2 linked regions of the Homo sapiens genome follow. The protein of the gene in region 2 interacts with the protein of the main gene of each other region in a pairwise test. Each region holds a gene or a part of one and is shown on either strand. Other genes may lie near its edges. The genes, in order: RD3 and GUCY2D.

What was found.
Region 1: the proteins of GUCY2D (region 2) and RD3 interact in binary tests that used the Homo sapiens proteins (3 or more experiments, as listed by UniProt).

Annotation. Positions count from the first base shown.
Region 1 is NC_000001.11:211,486,602-211,498,158, forward strand, and holds the start of RD3 (protein RD3), read right to left. Parts: upstream 5,562-11,557; 5' UTR 5,167-5,561; intron 1-5,166.
Region 2 is NC_000017.11:7,994,610-8,006,200, reverse strand, and holds the start of GUCY2D (retinal guanylyl cyclase 1 precursor), read right to left. Parts: upstream 3,587-11,591; 5' UTR 3,467-3,586; intron 3,163-3,466; 5' UTR 3,154-3,162; coding exon 2,433-3,153; intron 2,350-2,432; coding exon 2,045-2,349; intron 1-2,044. UniProt on the Homo sapiens protein: Catalyzes the synthesis of cyclic GMP (cGMP) in rods and cones of photoreceptors. Plays an essential role in phototransduction, by mediating cGMP replenishment.

The sequences.
Region 1 (11,557 bases), on a different chromosome or scaffold from region 2:
ACTTTGGGAGGCCGGTGCAAGTGGATCACCTGAGGTCAGGAGTTCGAGACCAGCCTGGCCAACATGGTGAAATCCCGTCTCTACTAATAATACAAAAATTAGCCAGGCATGCATGCCTGTAATCCCGGCTACTTGGGAGGCTAAGGCAGGAGAATGGCTTGAACCCGGGAGGCAGAGGTTGCAGTGAGCCGAGATTGCACCATTGCACTCCAGCCTGGGTGACAAGAGCGAAACTCTGTCTCCAAAAAAGAAAAGAAAAAAAGAAAACTATCTGTGGAATATTGGCCAATAGCTCAATCTTAGGAGGTGCTGAAGTGTTTATGGGTGTCTACAATATCTTACATTCAAATAGTTCAGAAAACATTACATAAATATGTATACACACACCCCATAAACAGGATGTTGGGGCTCAGAAACCAATATCCTAAGATATGGCATTTGGACATGCTGAGCTGAAGAAGCCTCGTGGTCTCTCTGGCCCTCCCCACGGCCACCGTCTCTTCCAAAGCCTTTGTCTGCCTAAGATCCAGATCCACCAAAGGGAACAATGGTTTTTTTCTTCCCCTTTCTTAAGACCGAGAATGAGCCCCCACCTGAACAGACCCTCTCCCAGGATAATGTACAAGTTCATTTCTGATCCCTGCCCCGTTCATTCTCCCTAGTAATCCTCTCACCAGAACTGCTGTTCTCCCCCTCCCATAACCTGCTTTGCCAGGATGATATATAAGCTTCCGAACCACAGTGTGGGGTGAGCAGTTCCTCTGTGATTCTCCCCATGTACGCGTTTGTGATAAATGTGTACGCCTTTTCTCTAATTAATCAGCCTTTCTTGAGTTGATTTTTAAGTGAACCTTCATAGGGCCAAGCCCTTGGCCCCTACAAGAGCAAATATGGCAAAATATTAGCAATTGTTGTATCTGGGGGATATTGATAGATATTTATCACACTTTTCTGCATGTTTATGCATATTCAAGTTTAAAAGTTGGGAAAGCTCTACCTCAAAACTCACTTGTGCAGGAAGCCTTCCTGATTCACTCTACCTGATGGCCTGCGTTGTTCCTCGGGACCCCTGCCTGCAGTCCCTATTCTGCTCATTTCTGCTGCTGTGTCTTTCTTCACCCACGAGCCTGGGCATCGAGGCCTTGCACAGTGGCGTGTGCGGGGAGGGCCTAGGGCCTGGAGACTGAGGCGCAGGGCTGAGTTCTCATCCACTCACTCGCTCAGCAGACACAGGAGGAGTGTGTGACCTGCCTGTCGCTGTGCTAGGTGCTGGGACTCCCTCAAGGAGTGTACACTCAAGAGAGGGGGGAAAACAAGCAGACAAGCAATTGCGATGCCACCAAAGGCACAGCTCTCCTGAGTGGAAAGGGACTCCTGGGCCTCGGCTGTGTAAGCAGTGCAGGGTGTGCCCAGGAAGTGCCTGCCCCTGTTCTCTGCATAACCGCTACTGCTCATTAACCAGCGAGGCCTTGGTTTCTGCATTTATAAAATGGTGTTCAGACACCAGCTCAGCCCACTCCACAGGGCTTCTCTGAGACTCGGGCAGGAGACAATATGTGAAAACATTCAGTAAACTATACAAATCCTGTGCAGTGATCAGGGGTTGTAATTCTTATGAGACACAATCAGGTGGCTAAAAAGTTCACCTGGAGGCCGGGAGCGGTGGCTCACGACTATAATCCCAGCACTTTGGGAGGCCAAGGCAGGCAGATCACTTGAGGCCAGGAATTTGAGACCAGCCTGGCCAATATGGTGAAACCCCATCTCTACTAAAAATACAAAAATTAGCCAGGTGTGGTTGCAGATGCCTGTAATCCCAGCTACTCAGGAGGCTGAGGCATGAGAATTGCTTGAACCCGGGAGGTGGAGGCTGCAGTGAGCCAAGATGGTGCCACTGCACTCCAGCCTAGGCGACAGAACAAGACTCTGTCAAAAAAAAAAAAAAAAACCCACCTGGAAAGAGGTCTTGAAGGCTCTATAGAGAGGAGACAGATGACCAAATGCAATGATGACACAAAACAAGAAGAAAAGAAATGAAAGCCAGCTAGGAACATGGGCTGGGCCCTGCTTGTTAAGACCCCTATCCATCTTGGGGTCCTTAGTAAGAATCTTTGGGCTGCGTTTCCCTCTTTTGTCTGGGAGCCGGGGTGGGGACAGAGTTGCTGCTGTCCATTGACACATACATGCCTTCCGTTCCCTCTCCCCATATTCCCTCCGTGGAGTCTGGGGCCTGGGGTCCAGTACCATCCCCACTCTCACCCCCACTCACCACCTCCACTGCTTTTGACCTCAGATGCATGCTGGGTGGCCTGGCTGCACCCCCACTCCGCCTCTACTTGATCACCAGCTCAGGTGGAGCAGGCTGGGCTTGGGGAGACAGTGCAGCCTTCAGCAGATAAAACCTGAATTCAGTTCCTACGCCCTTCCCCTCCCGTGTATGCTGCCTTTGTCCAAGTCACCTTCATGGCCCCAAGCCTCAGTTTCCCCAATCTATAAGGGAATAATAAAGGTACCTATTTCAAGTTACTGTGAAAATCAAATGAGATTATGTCTTTGTAAATGTTTTATTTTTATAAACTAACAATAAGCTGATTCACCTAGATCAGTGGCTACCATTGTCGCTTAGTACAGATTCTTACCCTTGGGTCCTAGGGAAAATTCAGGGATTTATGAACTTGGGTGGGGAAAAAAGTCATCTTTATTTCCACTAACCTTTAACTGAAATGTGGTATTTCTTTAGTTATGAATGAGGGTCATAGACCACAGTAATATCAGTAGCCCCATGGCTTTATCTCCAGCAGAAACCACAGATTTTTCACAAAATGCTTTAAAGTTGTTATTCTTGAATTATCTGGTATGCTCATCACTACTATGAAATTGTGGCATTTATTAGACTTGCTACTAGGTTTTATTATTTCACATGTTGATAGGGAAGCACACATATTATTATATCATAAATCATTTTTTCTTTCTTTTTTTTTTTTTTGATAGCTGCATTTCAATAGAGCTTGTTTCCTTTGTACCCCAGTGAATTTACTTTTATGCATTTAGAAGCATTTTTCTAGGAACGTGTCCACAGGCTTCACAGACTCCCAAAGGGGGCACAAAAATAAAGGATCCCCTGGCTTGGTGCAAGCTTGACCCCAACTTTGTTCCTGGCCTTCCCCAGCCCTGGCTTCTGGTCACCGTGTTGGGAGAGCTGAGCCTCCCTGTTTCAAGAGAAGGCCCAGGTGGTGAGGCCTCAGGTTTACAGAGCAGAGTGGATGATGGGGAAGCCCTCGCACGTTCTGTCTCTGCCTTTTGGTGTCACTCACCCACGCCCGTTATCTTCCATTCTCTGATCTTCTCTTTCCTCTTTCCTTTCTCCTTCATTACCCCTTCCACCCCCACACTCTCAGAGCCTTCCTTTCAGCCTATTTTTGAACATCCCTGAGGATAATGTCTTTTCTGTGGCTCCTGGGAGGCGCCACTACCAGCTGTGGCTCGTTAGCTGTGCTGGAAAAACTCTCGCGTTGTGCCTCAAGGGCAAGAGGAGTCTCTGGTTCCACTTGGCACTCAGAGGGGGACCAGGGATGTCTCAATGGTGGGAACAATGGGGAGTGTGACCTTGGAGCTGGAAGCAGGGCTCTGACCCCCTGCAGGAGGGATGAGAGTGCCCTCACCTCTAGTGAGAACTGAGGCCCTGCGCCGGCCCCAGCCAAACAGTGAGGGCGTGCAGACCTTGCCCAGGAAGGCCAATTTCTCAGTGCAAAGGGAGCCATGGCCAGGGAACCCGGCCCGGGTCCTCCACCTCTGAAGCTGAGCTAGGCATCTGCAGGCCAGGGTGAGGGGCTGCCCTGTGTGACCCGCCGGACCCAGGCATAGAGCAGCACCTGAGTCAGGCTGTCCCAGAGCACTGGCAGCTTCACTGCAGGGGCAGGCTGGCTCTGCTGACGCCAGACGCTCAGTCTGGGCAGAGACTTCTCAGTGGGGGCAGAGAGTAGGTGCTTCTCTGGCTAATCTGCCTCCCAGCTCTGTGTTTGATAAGGCCCAAGTCCAACTTTACAGATTGCAAATTGACCTTATTTCTCTTTGGCATCACAGAAAAACAACCTATAATCCACCAAGCCAGATATGAGCGGGCCTGACCTGTGGATCCTCTGCCCACCTGACAGACATCTGCTCATTTGTCGGGAACCCCTCAAGAGACAACTCCTCCCTGCAGCCGGCCCCTCACTTCCCCCCACCCATGGAGCACTGATCCCAGCCACCAGGGCCTGACACAAGGGCCCATCACCATGGCATCTAGCAAACACGTTTCTCACGCTTTGGGTTGTATTTATCTCTTCCCCACCTAGCTATGAATTCTGCAAGGGCGAGAGGAATGTGGGTTGAATCTGCTGCACATGGTAGCACTTGATAAGCGGTTCCTGAATGAATGAGTGAATGGCAGCCAGTCCTTCCCATTCTGAGGCAGAGGTGCAGCCAGGAGAGGGCGTGTACACAGGTCTGACTGACCACAGTGGGAGGGGACTGACCCTCATCCCTTGGTCGCAGCTGGACTTTCCTTCTAGGCCCGATCTCCCTGGCGCCCCACCCTGCACCCATCTGCCTGGGCCCACTCTCCTGGGCATGTTATCAGGGATGCACAGACTGCTCCATGTTCGAGGGGACTGAGGCACATCCATCACCCTCGTGCCCTGGGTGCTGCTGCATCCCCAGAGCCTGACTCTGTGCCTTGGACTTAGTAGATGCTCGAATCACAGTTCGCAAACCCATGCAAGAGTCTCTGATTTGGGTTTCGCTTTCCTTCCCCCTGCCTGTGTCCACTCTATAAAGGCAGAAAGGAACCTGCTGGAGCTGGGTCCTCCCCGAGAGGCTTGCAGTTCCAGAACAGGCAAAAACAATGGCTTCCCACAGGTTTACAAAACAAGGAGCAGGCTATAGCCCCGAGGAAGCTGCAGGACCCTCATCGGTTCCAACTCCTGTGGAACTGATGAGGACTAAAGGGGCCTTCCTGTGGCCATCTGGGTCCCGGAGGTGGGCGGCTTTCTAGGCTCCCCAGCCTGCCACACCCCTTGAGGCCACCCCACCCAGCTTCAAGCCTCAGCCCTAACTTCCAAAGGTGCAGCTGTGCCAGGGTGCGGGTGGGGAAGACACTGTCTCCTGGGGAGACCTCCATCTTACCTCTGAGGTCAGCCTCTGCTCAGGTGCAGCGTCACAGCAGGGGGCCTGCGTTCTGCTTCCCAGTCTGGGAGAAGAGAGTGTCTGGATATTTTCAGGAAAAAAAAAGAAAGTTGAGCAGCCACAGCAGGGCAGGGCAGTCTACATCCTCAAGTCTCCCTCAGCTTCTCTGCTGCTGCCGGCTGGCCTCAAATTTTGCCTCTCTTTGGTTCTCTGAGAAGTTTTACCAAGAGAAGAGACAGGAGGAGAGATCCAGCCTGGACTATTGTTTGTGGGGTGTGTAGGTGTGTGTGTGTGTGTGTGTGTGTGTGTGTGTGTGTGTGTGTGTATGCGTGTATGTATCCCGCGAGGCTGGAGCCACAGCTTCCCTGATGAACCATGGAGGCGGGCCAGCTCCTGAGCTGCGGTTGCCCTGGAGACCCACCTAAGCCTCTTTGCCTGGAGCAGCATTATCTGTAGAGGGAGTGGCTGATCTGACACAAAAGCCTGAGGCGACCCAGGCCCAGGCAGTGAGGGAGCACTTGTGTCCAGATGGCATTCTGTCCGCTTCCTCCTCCAGCCGGTGCTCAGTGTGGCACAAACTGGGCAAGACCATTCTCACCCAACCCTCTGCTGAGCCCTAGGTGTACCTGCTGTTGGCAAATGTTTCCAGCTGCCTGGTGGGTGGCTCCTGGATGGAGATCCCCTCTTTCTATCAGCTCCCTCCTACAGGGAAGGGGTGATTCTGGGTGCTGAGGACAGGGACCTGTGAAGATACATCTCCGCCTTTGCCCCACCACATCCCTTGCCTGTCTTCCTCTCTGCTTATCTAAATTATTTCCTTCCCTCAAGGCAAGCTCAAGAGCAGACAGTTCTGACTTTCAGAAGGAGGGGCTGTCCAGGGAGAAGAGGAACATGGAACAGAAAGCATTGACGTTGAGGTATTTGAGATAACATTTGGGGATAGCAGAAGCATCCTGTTGCTGTTCTGCAGCATCCCACACTCATGTCTGGGCCTCCTTCCTGTCTCTGCTCTCTGGTCACGCTGTCACTTGTAGACTGTTCTGCCTAGAAGCCATGTGTGGGCCAGCTTGCACCTAACAGACATTAGGTAGCACTAAAACAGATGCACACTGCCCTGTGAGGGGCATGGGAATACTGTAATGGGCATGAAGCTGCATTATAATAGATCTTAGGTAATCCTGTGCTGGGTGATAGCGTGACTTTTGCACACATCTGGTTTTGATTGTGTTGGAAATAAAGCAGAAAGTACAACCAAGAATAAATTAAACAATGGCTGATGAAATGGACTCAGGTTGCCCACCTGCCTGCCTGCATGATTTCGTCCCTGGGTGATTTGTCACTTCGTGCTTGCTCTGTGGCTGGTTCCACTCAGCTGGTTCCATCCGCCTTCCCTCTTCATCCATCAAGCAGGCAAGATTCTTGAGTCAGGAGTTGGATCATATACTTCTCTTGACCAGTTCACAGCACGACAGCCCCAAAGATTGAGTGGGTCACTTGGGGATGGAAGATCCCCACATTTGAGGGAGCTGAAGCTGACTTCCTCTGACCCACAGTTCCCAGGCGGCCTCCACCTCAGGGCCAGCTAAGGCCAGAGTCACCCAAAGCAGGTAACTGGGAGTCCCCACCTCTGAGCACCCCACCACTATCCTGGCACTTTCCCAAGGGGCGTGGCTTGGAGGTCCAAGGGCAGAAATTCCCAGGCATTTCCACACTGTAGGGAAGGGAGCAGGGGGATGACAAGACTTTACCTTCCCTTTAGGAAAGTTGCTGGAGGCAATGAGGAGAGGAGGGCATGGACTAAGTCACATGCTCATCTGTGCAGCACGTATTTCTAAAGCACCATTCTACAGGGGCACCAAGCTAGGAGCTGGCTGAGCCTGGCTCTCCTCTCTGCACACATCCCAGCCAAGCCTGTGTGTGCTGGATTGCTGGATCAGATGAGGAGGAGGTGGAAGTCTGGCAGGCAGGTGGGGAGCAGGGACAGCATTAGGGCCCAGAGTTAAAGACTTTTATCTCCAAGTAGTACAACCTTGGGTCTGCTACTGACCATTCTGTGTTTGAATAAAAACAATTCATCCCTTTTCTATAGCCATGCTTTTGTATTAATATCTCCCCTTCTAATGCACACACAATGAATGTAAATGAGATCATAGAGGCCAATGTCTTGAGCCATCAGAAAGATTTTGTCGCAGCAGCTGCCAGATGAGCTTCAGGACTCCTGACCCTGGGATGCCAGGGAACAAGCACACAGACGACTTATAGCAGTCTCCCTGGCAGACGCAGCTGGCCCCTCTCCTGCATTTTTCAAATGGTGCCTGTGATTAGAAGAGGGAGGCACTCCCTAACCCACGACCCTCCCTGACAGCTGCCTTGATACCGTAACTCACAGGCCTTGGTGGGTGTGTTGACTCCTCATTTATTCTGATTTGTTCACCTGTGGAGGATTTGTGATTATCCTTGCTGAGTGTGAATTTGCTCTGGGGAGAAAAGGTGGCGGTTGTTTTTCTCTTGTTTGGCGTGGATGGAAGTTGCTGAAGCATAGATATTCAGCAACCATCAAATGCAGAAACACCGGTGGGGCCCGCAACATTGCCTCATAGATGGCATTTGATTAATAAATTGGAAATGTGGAGTTATGAGGCGATTACATGCAAGGCTGGATTAAAATCCGCATGGAGATTAGAGATAAGCCCCGGCTCTGCGTGTGTGTGTGTGTGTGTGTGTGTGTGTGTGCACGCGCGCGCTCCGTTCTCTCCTCCCTGGAGTCTTTCCAGGCTATTTCAAACCATTTCTAACCACTCAGTCATGCGTTGGGTTTTCCAAATCCTGCAGAAGGTCTGTGTAGCCCTAATCCCAAAGAAGTTGAATTAAATGGACAGAATATTCATAGGTACAGACCAGATTTGCAGTTACTTAGACCTCTTCTCTCTGGGCATCCCTCTTTCTATTCCTGTGGTCACATTTCCTCTCCAGGTGCTACGGACTGAATGTTGTGTCCTCCCCAAAATTCAATCTTGAATCTCCCAAGGTGATGGTTAGGAGGTGGGACCTTTCGGATGTGATTAGGTCGTAAGAGGGGAGCCCTCAGGAATGAGATTACTGCCCTTGTGAAATGGTCTCAGGGAGCTTTTTGGCCCTTCTACCACGTGAGGACACTGTGAGAAGATGCCTCCATCAACTAGGAAGTGGGCTTTCAGCAGACACTGAATCTACTGGCACCTTGATCTTGGACTTCCCAGCCTCCAGAGCTGTGAGAAATAAATTTCTGTCATTTATAAGTCACCAGTTTATGGTATTCTGTAATAGAAGCCTGAATGGACTCAGACATCAGGTACAGGAAGCAATGTGTCTGACGGCAGGAAAAATGAGAATGCTCCCTTCCCTGCCAGCTAGCTGGGAATGAGGCATAAAGCACTTCTCATTCATTCATTCATTCACCAAGCATTTATTGGCTATATACTCTGTCTAGACTGCACCTTGACACTCCATTTCCATAGACTTCACTGACCACAGCTTCTTCTTCTTCTTTTTTTTTTTTTTGAGACAGAGTTTTGCTCTTGTTGCCCAGGCTGGAGTGCAATGGTGCGATCTTGGCTCACCACAATCTCCACTTCCCAGGTTCAAGCAATTCTCCTGCCTCAGCCTCCCGAGTAGCTGGGAGTATAGGCATGTACCACTACGCCTGGCTAATTTTGTATTTTTAGTAGAGATGGGGTTTCTCCATGTTGAGGCTGGTCTCGAACTCCTGACCTCAGGTGATCCACCCGCCTCAGCTTCCCAAAGTGCTGGGATTACAGGGGTGAGCCGCTGCGCCCGGCTACAGCTTTTCAGTTCTGCCCTGTAGTCTGATGGACTAATGTGAGGGCCTGTGGCAGAAACAGCTAGCTGTCCACCAAGAGTCACATTTCTCCTCCAGAGTACATGAACATGTAGTAGACATGTTCCTAGGAAGCAGCTGTCCAGCTGGGGACTTCATTCCCCATCCCTCCTCCCATCTAGGTGGGGCCGTGTGATGATAGGGTGTAGATGGAAGGGACATGAGTCACTTCAAGGTGTGGCAGGTAGACACCCCTGTGCAACTGTCCACCTTCCACCTTTCCCCTTTGCTGATCGTCAGCCAGGACTCTGAGGCCCTCGGGGTGGGGGAGACACAGTTTTGAAGGCGTTTAGGTCCCTCAATCACTTCATGAAAAGCTGCTCACCCATCATTCATGTTGAACTCTAATGTGTGCAAAAAATCATATGCTTGTTGGGTCAAAGCACTGAGTTGGGGTTTCTCTGTAATAGCAGTTGGCACCACCCAGCTCACAAAAAACCCTGTGAAAAGGGGTGGGTGTGGAAGTGCTGCCCTTTCCTAGGTTCCTGGACATCAGGGCTCTTCCTGACATGTTCGCCGCTGGTTTTTTCACCATCACCTTAAAGACATTACTTCATCCCCTGTTGTCTCATGCCCCTGTGCATGGTGCCCACTCTACCCAGAGTCCCCTCCTACCTGGGGAAGTTAACTTACCCCTCAAAGTTTAGCTTCATGGTAACCGCTTTGTGAATTATCCTCTGTCTGCTGCTCCCTCCTCTCCACTCTGAAGCCTCATTCTTTTTTTTTTTTTTTTTTTCTTTTGAGATGGAGTTTTGCTCTTGTTGCCCAGGCTGGAGTGCAATGACACGATCTTGGCTCACTGCAACCTCTGCCTCCTGGGTTCAAGCAATTCTCCTGCCTCAGCCTCCCAAGTAGCTGGGATTACAGGCGTGTGCCACCACACCCAGCTAATTTTTGTATTTTTAGTAGAGCCAAGGTTTCACCATGTTGGCCAAACTGGTCTCGAACTCCTGACCTCAGGTGATCCACCCACCTTGGCGTCCCAAAGTGCTGGGATTACAGGTGTGAGCCACTGTGCCCGGCCTGAAGCCTCATTCTTCCTTCTGTACACACAGTTGATCCTCATTACCTACCAAAGTACTGGCAAATTTGCCTACTCACTAAAATTTATTTGTAATCCAAAAGTCAATACTCATAGAACTTTTTTTTTTTTTGATGCAGAGTCTTGTTCTGTTGCCCAGGCTGGATGGAGTGCAGTGCTGTGCTCTCAGCTCACTGCAACCTCTGCCTCCCAGGTTCAAGCGATTCTCCCACCTCAGCCTCCCAAGTAGCTGGAATTACAGGCTTGTGCCACCACACCCGGCTACTTTTTTTTTTTTTTTTTTTTTTGAGATGAAGTCTCGCTCTGTCGCCCAGGCTGGAGTGCAGTGGCGAGATCTCGGCTCACTGCAAGCTCCACTTCCCAGGTTCATGCCATTCTCCTGCCTCAGCCTCCCAAGTAGCTGGGACTACAGGCACCCGCCACTACACCCAGCTAATTTTTTTGTATTTTTTTAGTAGAGATGGGGTTTCACCATATTAGCCAGGATGGTATCAATCTCCTGACCTTGTGATCCGCCTGCCTTGGCCTTCCAAAGTGCTGGGATTACAGGCGTGAGCCACCACACCCAGACTAATTTTTGTGTTTTTTAGTAGAGACAGGATTTCACCGTGTTAGCCAGGATGGTATCAATCTCCTGACCTGGTGATCCGCCCGCCTAGGCCTTCCAAAGTGCTGGAATTACAGGCGTGTGCCACCATGCCCGGCCTAATTTTTGTGTTTTTTAGTGGAGACAGGGTTTCACTGTGTTGGCCACGCTGGTCTCGAACTCCTGAGCTCAAGTGATCCCCTGCCTCAGCCTCCCAAAGTGCTGAGATTACAGGTGTGAGCCACTGCACCTGGCCTACTCATAGTATTAGATTGCTGTAAGAGTAATTGCGGTTTTTCCCATTAAAAGTAATTACTTTTGCGCCAACCTAATACTTTTGTGGTCATTCTAGACATGTAGAAAAATGTTAGTGACCTGATGGACTTGTTCCCTGCTGAGCTTGAACAAGGCACGCTCTGCCTTCTTGTTTCAGCTCTCATGATCTTAAGTGTCCTTTTCACAGTCTATTTAGTGCCCACTTTTCATACTTTGTGCTTTTTATTTGTGATTTTGATATCGAAAATGGCCCCAAAAGTAGTGCTGAAGGGCCTTCTAGTGTTCCTAAGTGCAAGGAGGCAGTGACACGCTTTACTACATGAGTTAGATCAGCTTCCTTCAGGCCTGACTTAGCACTGCTGGCGGTGAGTTCAGTGCTAATGAATCAACAATATAGAGTAAATAAGGTGTCTTTCAATAGAAATGCACATAAAACAAGGTTATGTATTGGTCAGCTGACAAAAATGTCATGACCAGAGGCTTCAGGAACCTCATCCAGGACGAGGACTGAACTTCACCCTGTATTTCCCCTAGGAGCAATGGTTCAGTGTTTGCTAATTCACAACTTTATAGATAATAACTACTGTGAATAACAAGAATTGGCTGTGCT
Region 2 (11,591 bases):
CTCTCTTCCTCCCTCCCCATTGGCTCTCTCTTCCTCCCTCCCCACTGGCTCTCTCTTCCTCCCTCTCCTATTGGCTGTCACACCTGCTCTCCCCACTAACTGGTTCCTCTTTTCAGGACTCAGCCTCCTCTCTGACCATTGGTTGATTCTAATTCTCCATCACCTGTAGGTCCTCTCTTCTTCCTGTTGGTTGCCCAGCATATAGTTTTAACCTCATCACCTACCATTCACCTAAAAGCCTTCTCACCTATCTTTTGGTTGGCTTCTATTTTCTGTTGTTCCTTAAAAAAACAAACAAACAAACAAAAAAACTAAACAAAAAACAAACAAAAAACCTTCTCTATTGTTACCACCCGATCTTATCAGGCTTCTCTATTATTCCCAGTTGCCATCTCTCAGAGAGCCAGGCACTGTGCAGAGCACTAAAGATGTATCAGTGTACAAGACAGACCCCGTCTCAAGGAACCTTTCTTCTTGCCAAAGAGACAGGGGTGTTCAGGCAGTGCAATGAGTAAAAGTAGGGGAAACTGAGGGAGCTGCAGAGACAGGAATGGGTGTCCCCACCCTAGGCTGTGGACAGAGAAGGAGCTGTTAGAAGTGACCATCCTTCAGGGGATGAGTCAGAATTATCCAGGGGAGGCAGGGACAAGAGAGAGGAAACAGCACACTCAGAAGCTCAGAGGCAAAAGAGAAGGACACATTCCAAGAACCCAGAGTAGCTTGGTCTGGCTGAAGTTCATGGGAGGTGGAAGAGAGAGAAAGACAGGTGACCTGGTAAGCCATGTGGAGAGGCCTGCATCTATCCAGGGCAACAGAAGCCACTGTGAGGCTTTGAACAGGGGCATGACAGGGTGAGATCTGTCAGATTTCTGAAGCTTGATCTGGAGAAAGGTGTTGGGCAGGTGAGTGTTGAAGCAGAGACCATCTGAGAGATTATGTTTTGGGATTTGGGCTGGGGGTGCTGTGGCCTGAATCAGGGCAGTGACAGTAAAGATGGAGAAAGCGGATGAATTCGAATGATCTTTAGGAAGTAACAGTAACAGGGCTTGATGCCTGGAAGTGGGGGCGAAGAATTCAAGGAATCAAGGGTGACTCACACGCTCAGAGGCTTGCGCAGTTTGGGCAGTGGAGAGGACTGCTGTGGTACTTACTGAGAGCTGAAGGGCTTTTCTCTCTCTACTTTCTCAACCTCCCTCTCTCCACTGACCGACCCTCCCTCCATCCCATCTCATTATGATTCCTATCTTGTATTCTCTTCTGACTATTCCCATCACTGCACCCCTCCCCCCTCCATTGGACACCTCCAATCCTCTTGGAAGAATCTAGGGGCATCGATGGGAAATTGCAACCCCTACGACCCTTCTCTCATGCAGCCGCCTGTGAGTTGGACCTTTGTGGTGGTTAATTCACTGCCCGTTGACATCTAAATTCCCTTCTCATAGTGGTTTCTAGTCCCCCTTTGTGGCGGGAGTAAAGTTAGATGATCTGAACTGGGATTCTGGGGACTTGGGGATCCCTAGGTATTAGCTGGATGTTGGAAATACACTATGGATCTGGTTAGGATTGCCCCTGAATCCACCCAGGGAACTTTCTGCTTCTTGCAAGGTGTCTAGGCCCTTGAAAAGCTAAGACCACCAGATGAGGCCCCAGAGGAAATACCTCTGAACTAGGGATGAAGGTTGGATTGGCATCCTCCCTCCTTCCTGCTTTCAAGAACACCAAGTATTTATTTTAGACAGCTGGGAGTATGTGGTGGTGGAAACGGGTTTACTTTGAAGCCAATTGCAAAAGGTTTTGCAGTTTACAGTTCATTAGAGTTTACTGCTTGATGTTGGACTTGAGAGGTCGAATTGCCTACTCTCTAGAGGCAATCCTCGTACACTAAGAGACCCCAAGTGGGGCCAGAGCCTCTACATTACCCAGGAAACTCCAAACAGCTAGAGCTGCCAGTGGTTCTTTCTCCATTGGCTGCATCCTCCTCTCCCTGCTTTGGCTGTCCTCTCCCCTCTCCCTTGCCTTCTTCCCTCCTCCCGGGACCGTCTACCTGCTGCAGATTGAGGTCAGAGGGCAGCTCGCGGCGCTCTTGAGCCCTGCGCAGGCTGTCCAGCACGCTGCCTTCAGAGGGACAGTGGCGCGTGAGGGTGAGCACGGCATCGTGGGCCCTGCGAAGCTGGGAGCTGTTGGCGAGTGCGGCCAAGGCCTCCGGGCCTGGGGACAAGGCGTAGTGGATCGTGTCGAAGGGCAGGAAGACCAGGGAGCCATCGGTCAGGCCCAGCTCCTCTGCGGCCTCCAGGAGGTAGCGCTGCTCCTCGCCACCCAGCAGCACCGAGTGCATCACCATGATCACTGCTGCGGACAGAGGCTTGGCTCGCGGCGCCGTCCGGCTGCCGGCAGGACCAGCCGACCTCCTCGCACCCTGCAAGGGAGCCTACCTGTGACCCTGGGCCCGTCCCGAACCTTCCTCAGGGCCTCCCGGGCTCCAGACAGGTCCAAGGGCTCCATGGAAGTCACGGAGGCGACAGGCAGGCCCCGGGCCCTGAGTGCCGTGGACAGTGAGCGTCCCGCCTCCACCCACAGGTCCTGGGGGGCGGTGACCAGGGCCACGCGCGCCCAGCCGAATGCGCGAAGCAGGGCGTAGAGGGCATCCGCGGCGGGGGTCACGGCAGGGGCCGTGGTGCCCTCCGCCTGCGTCCAGGGGCAGCCCCAGGGCACCAGCGCGATCCCGGCTTCTTCGGCGAGCAGCTCGGCTGGCCGGCAGGCCGCAGGGTTCACCGGACCCACGAGGCCCGACACGCGGGCCAGCGCGGAGGACACGGCCCCCAGCGAGCCCGGCGTCCGGCAAGGCTCGGGCAGCAGCGCTACCTCGAAGCGGGGACCGCCTGCCAGGCCGGGGTCGCGGTTCAGGCGGGCGGCGGCCAGGCGGGCGGCCAGGTCCGGGCGAGCCCGAGAGAAGATGGGGTCGCAAGCCCAGGGGCCCAGGACCCCCACCGTGAACACGGCGGAGAGGGCGGGGGGCTGCAGCAGAAGCAGGAGCAGCAGGAGCGGGAGCCGGGGCAGGGCCCGGGGGAGGCGGGGCAGGGACGGAGCCCACCACGCGGGACCGCAGAGCCCGGGGTCCGGAAGCCCACCCGCTCGGCGGGCGCAGGCGGTCATTGCCGGCTTCTGCGAACACAGACGGAGCAGGCTGAGCGACTGAGACCCCGGCCTCCCCTAGGGTTCTCCCCGTAACCCCGAGTTTCTCCAAGCCCGAGTAACCCATGGGATGATTCTGCTGCTACCGCCCCCTCCGGAGGCTGGGAAGACTAACTGGGGCCAAGGACACCGCCCCGAAGCCCCCTTCTGCCGCCCCGGCTTCCCGCTCCCACCCGGCCTGCCCCTCCCCCCGTCGGAGGCGTCAGGGGTCAGCAGGGACTCGCCTGCGCCCTCAGACCGACCCTATCCCAGCGGAGGGGCCTCTGACATTTACAGGGAAGTCCGGGGGCTCGGGCCCACGGCCCCCGGTGAGGGGTCACAGGGCCGGTCCCCCTTTTGACGCCCGCCCACAGGTCTTCCTTGCCAGCCCAGGCCAGGGCGGGGGCGTGGGTACAGCCGGCCAGAGCCCTTAATCTCCCCAAGCTGATTAGGGTCCTTAATTAGGTAGGGAGGGGCGGGCTAGTGGAGGATGAGAGCCCCTACTGCGCCTTTCTGGGGTGGGATCTGTCCTGGCTTCCAGGTAGTCAGCCAGATCCTTTCCCCTCCATGCCTTCCAGCCCCCCACATCACCCTCATCACCACCACCCCTGCACAAAAGCAGCCGCAGCTTCCCCTTTCAGCCGTCGGCCACACTGCCCTGCTCAGCCAGAAAGTAACAAGTGCCTGCCCGTGGACAGCTGTGGGTAATCCGTCCTGGAGAAGAAACACTGATCCCAGTCCCTTTCCTTACAATCTTCTGTTTCCAGTTCTGCCAGCTAAGTTCAAGCTCCATCCTTTGGCTGGCAAAGTCTATATCCCAGAGACCAAACCCACACCAAGCTGACACCTGCCTTTCTTCTTTCACTTCTCTTCTCTCTCTCGCCACACTTGATTCCCTGACCTCTGCTTCTCCATGCCTAGAAAACCACCCTCAGGAAGTAATGAAAAGAGCTTTGGCCTCCGACAGACCTGGGTTCCAAGTCCCTCTTGCTGATTTTTGGACCTTGGGCAATTGCTTAATCTGAGGGTTGTTGTGAAAATGAATATAATTGCCCGGATGGCAAGAATAGCTAACAATTTTAGAGAAGAGTATAATGGAAGATGCCCTATAAGATATACAAATTTATTATAAAGCAATAGCAATTATGTATTTATGTAAATATATAATATATAAAACATAGCAATTATATATCTACATAAATATATAATATATAAAACATAGCAATTATATATTTATATAATTATATGATATATAAAACAGCAATTATATAAATATATACTATAAAGCTATAGCAATTATATATTATATATTTATATAAATCCACATTATGTAGTGACAGCAATTATATATTTATATAAATATATATTATAAAGCTATGGCAATAAAGACTTCATAGTTTTGGCACAAGGATAAACAAATGGACCAATGAAATAGAATATACAGTACTGAAACAAACACAGCAAATGTGTGAAGACGTGGACATTTCTTACCAACTGGGAAAGAATAAACTTCAACAAATGGAGCTGATTAGCCATCTGGGGGGAAAATAGAATTCAATCCCTATCTCACACCATACACAAAATCTATTCCAGGTCAAAGACCTATATGTGAAAAATAAAACTTAAAAACTTTTAAATGAATCATTTTCAGACTTGGTGGCAAAGATTGGATCAGGTAAGAATCATCAGTGGATTCTAAAGCTGGGGGAAATGTTGGATGAGGAGCAGAACTTTTGCAGGGTCTGAAAGTATCTCCCTCCAGATTGCCATGAGTTGGAAGGGAGTGGGGAATAAAATAAAAAGCAGTCATTGTACAGTGGAGAAATGGGGCAATACTTTAAGCAAGTGATCAAAATTAACCATGAGGGGCAGAGAGACATTCTTTGCCTCCAGATGTGATACCCTGAGAAGGACATAATACTACACCTATGCAGTGCTGCACAATACGTCTCGGCAATGTTCCAGCATTATTTCAAATCTAATCACAAGGAAACATAAGATAAACACTAAATGAGAAACGTTCTATTTAAAAAGGTGGGGAGGACTGCATTCTTCAAAAATGTCAATGTCATAGAAGGCAAATAGAGGTTGAGGAACTGTTTCAGATTAAAGAAACCTAAAAAGACATGACAATTATATGCAACACCTGCCCTTAGTTTGGATTCTGTATCATTGGATTTTTTTAAAGTGCTATAAGGTTATAGGGCTTGAGGCCGGGCACCGTGGCTCACGCCTATAATCCCAGCACTTTGGGAGGCCGAGGCAGGCGGATCACTTGAGGTCAGGAGTTTGAGACCAGCCTGGCCAACATGGTGAAGTCCCGTCTCTACTAAAAATACAAAAATTAGCCGCGGGTGGTGGAGTGCACCTGTAATCCCAGCTGCTCAGGAGGCTGAGGCAAGAGAATCACCTGAACCTGGGAAGCAGAGTTTGCAGTGAGCCAATATCGCGCCACTGCACTCCAGCCTAAGCAACAAAGTGAGACTCCATCTCAAAAAACAAAAAAAGAAAAGAAAAATGGTTATAGGGCGGCATGGGGTTATAAAAATGCTATAAAGAACATCAACATTAACAAAAAAATTGGCAATTGACAAAATTGGAATATCACAGGAGATTCAAAAGAGTATAAAGTTATAAAGTTAATAATGGTAGTGTAGTTATGTTAGACTATCCCTGTTCATAGGAAATACACACTGAAGTATTTAATGGTAAAGCATCATGTATATAACTGACCCTCAAGCAGTCCAGAAAAAATATATATTAGATATGATATATGGTATGTTTTATATATTATCTATTTCAAATGATAAACAAATAGGGTAAAATGCTAACAATAGGTGAATCTGGGTAAACAGCCTGTGAGTGTTCTTTGCATATTTTTTATTTTTGCAACATTTTTTAAGTTTGAAATTATTTCCAAATAAAGTTAATTAAAAATTTTAGATTATAGAATTCAAAGAAAGTAGATCTGCTCTGAAGAACAAAGAAAAAAAATAAGAAAATAGAAAAATTTAAAAAGAGCAGAAATTTTTAAGAGAAAAAAAGACATAGATTGAAAAGACATCTTTATCAATTCAGGGTAGGAATGGATTTATTAAGCAAGACACATAGGCTGGGCATGGTGGCTCATGCCTGTAATCCCAGCACTTTGGGAGGCAGAGGCTGGCGGATCATATATATATATGGCAAAATATTAACATCTGTTAGTTTTTGGTGGTAAACAATCGCTATATGTAGGGATTTTCTGTATGCTTGAAATGTTTTCTAATTTAAATTAAAAAAAATTTGTCAACAAAAATTTAGATGTCTGACCTGTAGCAGACTTCCAAAATCCAGTAGACATCAATATTCGTTTCTACAGTGCTGTGCTTCTTACCTTCCATAAGAGTTACCTCCCCACATCTCCTGTCTTCTGACTCAACATCTCTACATGAAATTGTGGAAACTCCAGCCAACTCTTTCATTTCACACATGATGAGAATGAGGTCCAGAGACCAATTTGGTTAAATTGACAATCTCCCAATTTTCCTCTAGGGTCCATGGACAGATGGGTAATATAGATGAAGATGAAGGGGGGATTTTTAAAATCTTTTTGTCATAAAATATACCTAACATAAAATTTACCATTTTAACTTTTTTTTTTTTTTTTTTTTTGAGACAGAGTCTCACTCAGCTGCCCAGGATGGAGTGCAGTGGTGTGATCTTGGCTCACTGCAACCTCCGCCCCCCGGGTTCAAGCGATTCTCCTGCCTCAGCCTCCCGAGTAGCTGGGATTACAGGCACCCGCCACCACGCCCAGCTAATTTTTGTATTTTTAGTGGAGACGGGGTTTCACCTTGTTGGCCAGAATGGTCTCGATCTCTTGACCTCGTGATCCGCCTGCCTCAGCCTCCCAAAGTGCTGGGATTACAGGGGTGAGCCACCGCGCCCAGTCTCCCCACTTTAACATTTTTAAAGTGTACAATTCAGTGGTGTTAAGTAAATTCATATTGTTGTGCAACCATCACCACTGTCCATCTCCAGAACTTTTCCATCTTACCCAATTGAAACTCTGTGCCCATTAAATACTAGCTCCCCATTTCCCCTCCCTCCAGCCCCCAGAAACCACTGTTCTTATTTTTTTTTCCTTTTTATTTTTTAGAGACCGGGTCTTGCACTGTTGCCCAGGCTGGAGTACAATGGCACGATCTCAGCTCACTATAGCCTCAACCTCCTGGGCTCACACAATCCTCCCACCTCAGCCTCCCAAGCAGCTGGGATCACAGGCATGTGCCACTATGCCTGGCTAATTTTTTGAAATTTGGCAGAGATGAGGGTCTCACTATGTTGCCTAGGCTGGTCTCCAACTCCTGGGCTCAAGTAATCCTCCCACCTCAGCCTCCCAATGTGCTGGGATTACAGGTGTGAGCCATTGCCCCCGGCCCATCATTCTTTCTGTCTCTATGAATTTGACTACTTTAGCTACCTCACATAAGTAGAATCATAGAGTATTTGTCCTTTTGTGTCTGTTTATTTCACTTAGCATGATGTTTTCAAGGTTTATCCTATGCTGTAACGTATCAGAGGTTCATTCCTTTTTTTTTTTTTTTTTTTTTTTTTTGAGACAGAGTTTCACTCTGTCACCCCAGGCTGGAGTGCAGTGGGGCAATCTCGGTTCACTGCAACCTCAGCCTCCTGGGTTCAAAGCAATTTGCGTGCCGCAGCCTCCCGAGTAGCTGGGACTACAGACGTGCATCACCATGCCTGGCTAATTTTTGTATTTTTAGTAGAAACGGGGTTTCACCATGTTGGCCAGGCCGGTCTCAAACCCCTGACCTCAGGTGATCCTCTTGCCTTGGCCTCCGAAAGTGCTGGGATTACAGGTGTGAGCCACCAAGCCCCACCTCACTCCTTTTTAAGGTTAAATAATATTCCATTGTATGTACAGTATATACCACATTTTATTTACCCATTCATTCTTCTGTGGACACTTGGCTTGCTTCCACCTCTTGGTCTCTGAGTCCCTTCCTTCAGTTGTTTTGGGTATACACCTAGAAGTGGGATTGCTGGATCATATAATTCTTTTTTCAAATAAATATTTAATTTTATTTAATTTTATTTTTTGTGGCAGGGTTTCACTCTGTCACCCAGGCTGGAAGGCAGTGGCTTGACCTCTGCTCACTGCAGCCTCCGTCTTCCAGGTCCAAGTGATTCTCCTGCCTCAGCCTCCCGAGTAGCTGGGACTACAGGCAGGCGCCACCACACCAGGCTAATTTTTGTATTTTTGGTAGAGACGGGGTTTCACCATGTTGGCCAGGCTGGTCTCGAACTCCTGACCTCAAGCAATCCACCCACCTTGGCCTCCCAAAGTGCTGAGATTACAGGTGTGAGCCACCGTGCCTGGCCTGGATCATATAATTCTATGCTTGATTGTTTCAGGAACTGACACACTGTTTTCTGCAGAGCCTGTACCATTTTATACTCAAGGAGTGGACTATTTTAAATCCATTCTAGTCCTCACGCCAAGGTTGCACAGCCAGCCTCCTGCCACCACACTGCTTCTCACTTCCAGTGGCCCACACCAGAGCTTGTTTGTTGCTTACTGCTAAATTTCGATTCCATCTGAAAGGTACTGAAACAAAACATGCCCTCTTACATAAAGGGCGGCGCCAAATCTTAAAGTAGCAGCTGGCTGGAGTTACCAGAGGACAGAATTATATTTAAATCCAACTCCTGTACTATAAATAGCCTCAGCTGCAGGTGGCGCTCCCTCTCTGGAAGGTCTTGGTTTTGCTCTGTCTAGAGGCAAAGGGTATAAAGCTCTTTCTTCTGAGATTTTTAGTCCCTTCCCTGCCCCCCATAAAGTCACGAAATTTGGAGGAGTTGACAGAAGGAATTAGAAGTTTCTGTTTGTGGAATCACTGCAGCAGTAGATAAGGAAAAACTATTCCTTGAAGCAAAACAACTTTTGAAACCAATTTGGCCTGAATCTCACAGAAGGAAACAAGTCCTGGGGGTCTGGTCAAAAAAACAAAACAAAACAAAAAAAACAAAAAAACTTCAAGTTAGAAACACTGAATCCAAACTAGAGGGTAAAAATCAGGATTCCATTAAACTACAGTTTGTAATAGTTAAAGAATAGTGTGGAGGAAACAGAAATATATCATTTTTTCACTATTAAATGTTAAAACGGGTTGGGCACAGTGGCTCACATCTGTAATAAAGTATGCAAAAATGTGTAAGCAAAAATAAAAGACTTTTGAAGATAACCACTGTAAATAGCTTTTAAAAATGCATATATGAGAAAATAGATAACTTTTTTTTTTTTTTGACATGCAGTCTCACTGTGTCACCAGGCTGGAGTGCAGTGGTGCGATCTTGGCTCACTGCAACCTCTGCCTCCCGGGTTCAAGCAATTCTCCTGCCTCAGCCTCTCAAGTAGCTGGAACTACAGGTGTGCGCCACCACGCCCAGCTAATTTTTTTTTGTATTTTTAGTAGAGACGGGGTTTCACCATGTTGGCCAGGATGGTCTCGATCTCTTGACCTTGTGATCCACCTGCCTCGGCCTCCTAAAGTGCTGGGATTACAGGTGTGAGCCACCACGCCCAGCCGAAAATAGATAATTTTATGTACTATTTTACAATCTGCTTCCCTCCTTAAAATATTTTATATTTGTTTTATGAAAATATAATACAATTACATCGTTCAAAAATAAAATAAACAAAAAAGAATATACAGTGAAAATGCTCCCTACCACGTGTGTCCCCTGTCAGCCCACTTCCCCCAAAGGGAGAGCCACAGGTAGATTCTCATACGTTTTGTGGCGCTCCTTGGGCATACGCAAGCAATAAGAATCTATTTTCTTCTAGTCCCCTTTTTACATAAAAGATAACACTGTTCTGTACCTTGCTATTTTATTTCAACAATATCTTGGAGGTCTTGTTTCTTGTTTCATAGAGAGCTGATCATAGCTGCATAGATTCCATTGAATCGCAGAACTGTAACCTGGTTACTCTTTGCTATTGCTGCTCCGATGAATACCTTGTACAAGCCTCACTTTGCATATATCTAAGTACATCTACAGGCAAATTGCCTGTGTAAATGCACTGTAATTTGGAGAGATGTTGCCAAATTGTCCCCTCTAGGGATTATGCCAATTTACACTAGTACCAGCAATGACTTAGAGTGTCTTGTTGCCCACAGCCTGGATTCAGAGTGTGTTTTTAATTTCTCCAATTTGATATTTGAAAAAGAAAAATGGCATCCAAGGGAAAAAAAAGTATCATGGTATAGTTTAAATTTGTGTTTCTCTTCTGAGTGAGGCTGAACATATTTTCATGTTTACAGGCCTTTTGCATATCTTTTTTGAGAACTGTCTGTTTATATCTTTTGCTCACTTTTCTATTGGGTTATTGGTCTTTTTCTTATCATTTTTTAGATCTCTTTATATGTTAGGAGAATACACATTTGTAATATGATTTGAAAAAAAAATCCCAGTTGATGTGTCTACTCTTTGCTTATAATGTGAGTGTGTTTTTGCCAAGTACATTTTCAAATGCAGTCTTTTAAAATTTTTAAATGCCGTTTGGATTTTAAATCACTATCAGAAAAGCAAAGGCTACAAACACATTCTCCAATGTTTTCTTCATTCTTCAAGGACTTACAGTTTCACGTTTACATTTAAATCTGTGACCCCTTTGGAATTTATCCTGATGTGAGGAGTAAGGTGTGGATCCAATTTTATTTTCATCTGCCTGGTTCCCAGCTGTCCCATTACCATTCACTGAATAATTCATTTCTCCTCATATCATCATAAAGAACAATCCTGAATGTATCTGCATGTATTTCTGGATTTTCTGTTCTGTTCCCTTGGTCAGTCTGTCTAATATGAACCACTACTATACTACTTTCATTACTGAAGTATTATAATATTTTTAATTAATTTACAGAGCTACTCTCCGTCCTCTGCCTCATTGCTCCTCCTTTCCAGAATTTTCCTGATAATTCTTATGCATTAATTTTTTATATTGTCTTTTTAATCATCTTCCTAATTTTTAAAAAGTCATTGGCACTTTCTTTGTTATTGTGTTAAACTTATAAATTAATTTATGGAAGATTTACATTTTAGGATGTTGAGTCTTTCTGGGCAAGACTACTATTTGTTGAAGCCTACTTTTGTACCCTTCTGTAGTGTTTTTACCTTTTCTTTAAGTGAGTTTGATGTATTTCTTGTTACTCTTTTCTTTTTTATCATTGTATTTTTCTTTTCTTTTTTTTTCTTTTATTTCCAAATCCCCAGAACCTGTGAACTGTGTTAAGTTTATTAAAAAGCATTTTATCTTTTATATTGCTCTTGTAGGTCCTTTTCTTCTATTATATCTTCTAACTGGTTGTCGAGTATTAGTTTCTATTTTTCCCTTTATTACATGTCTTGGACGT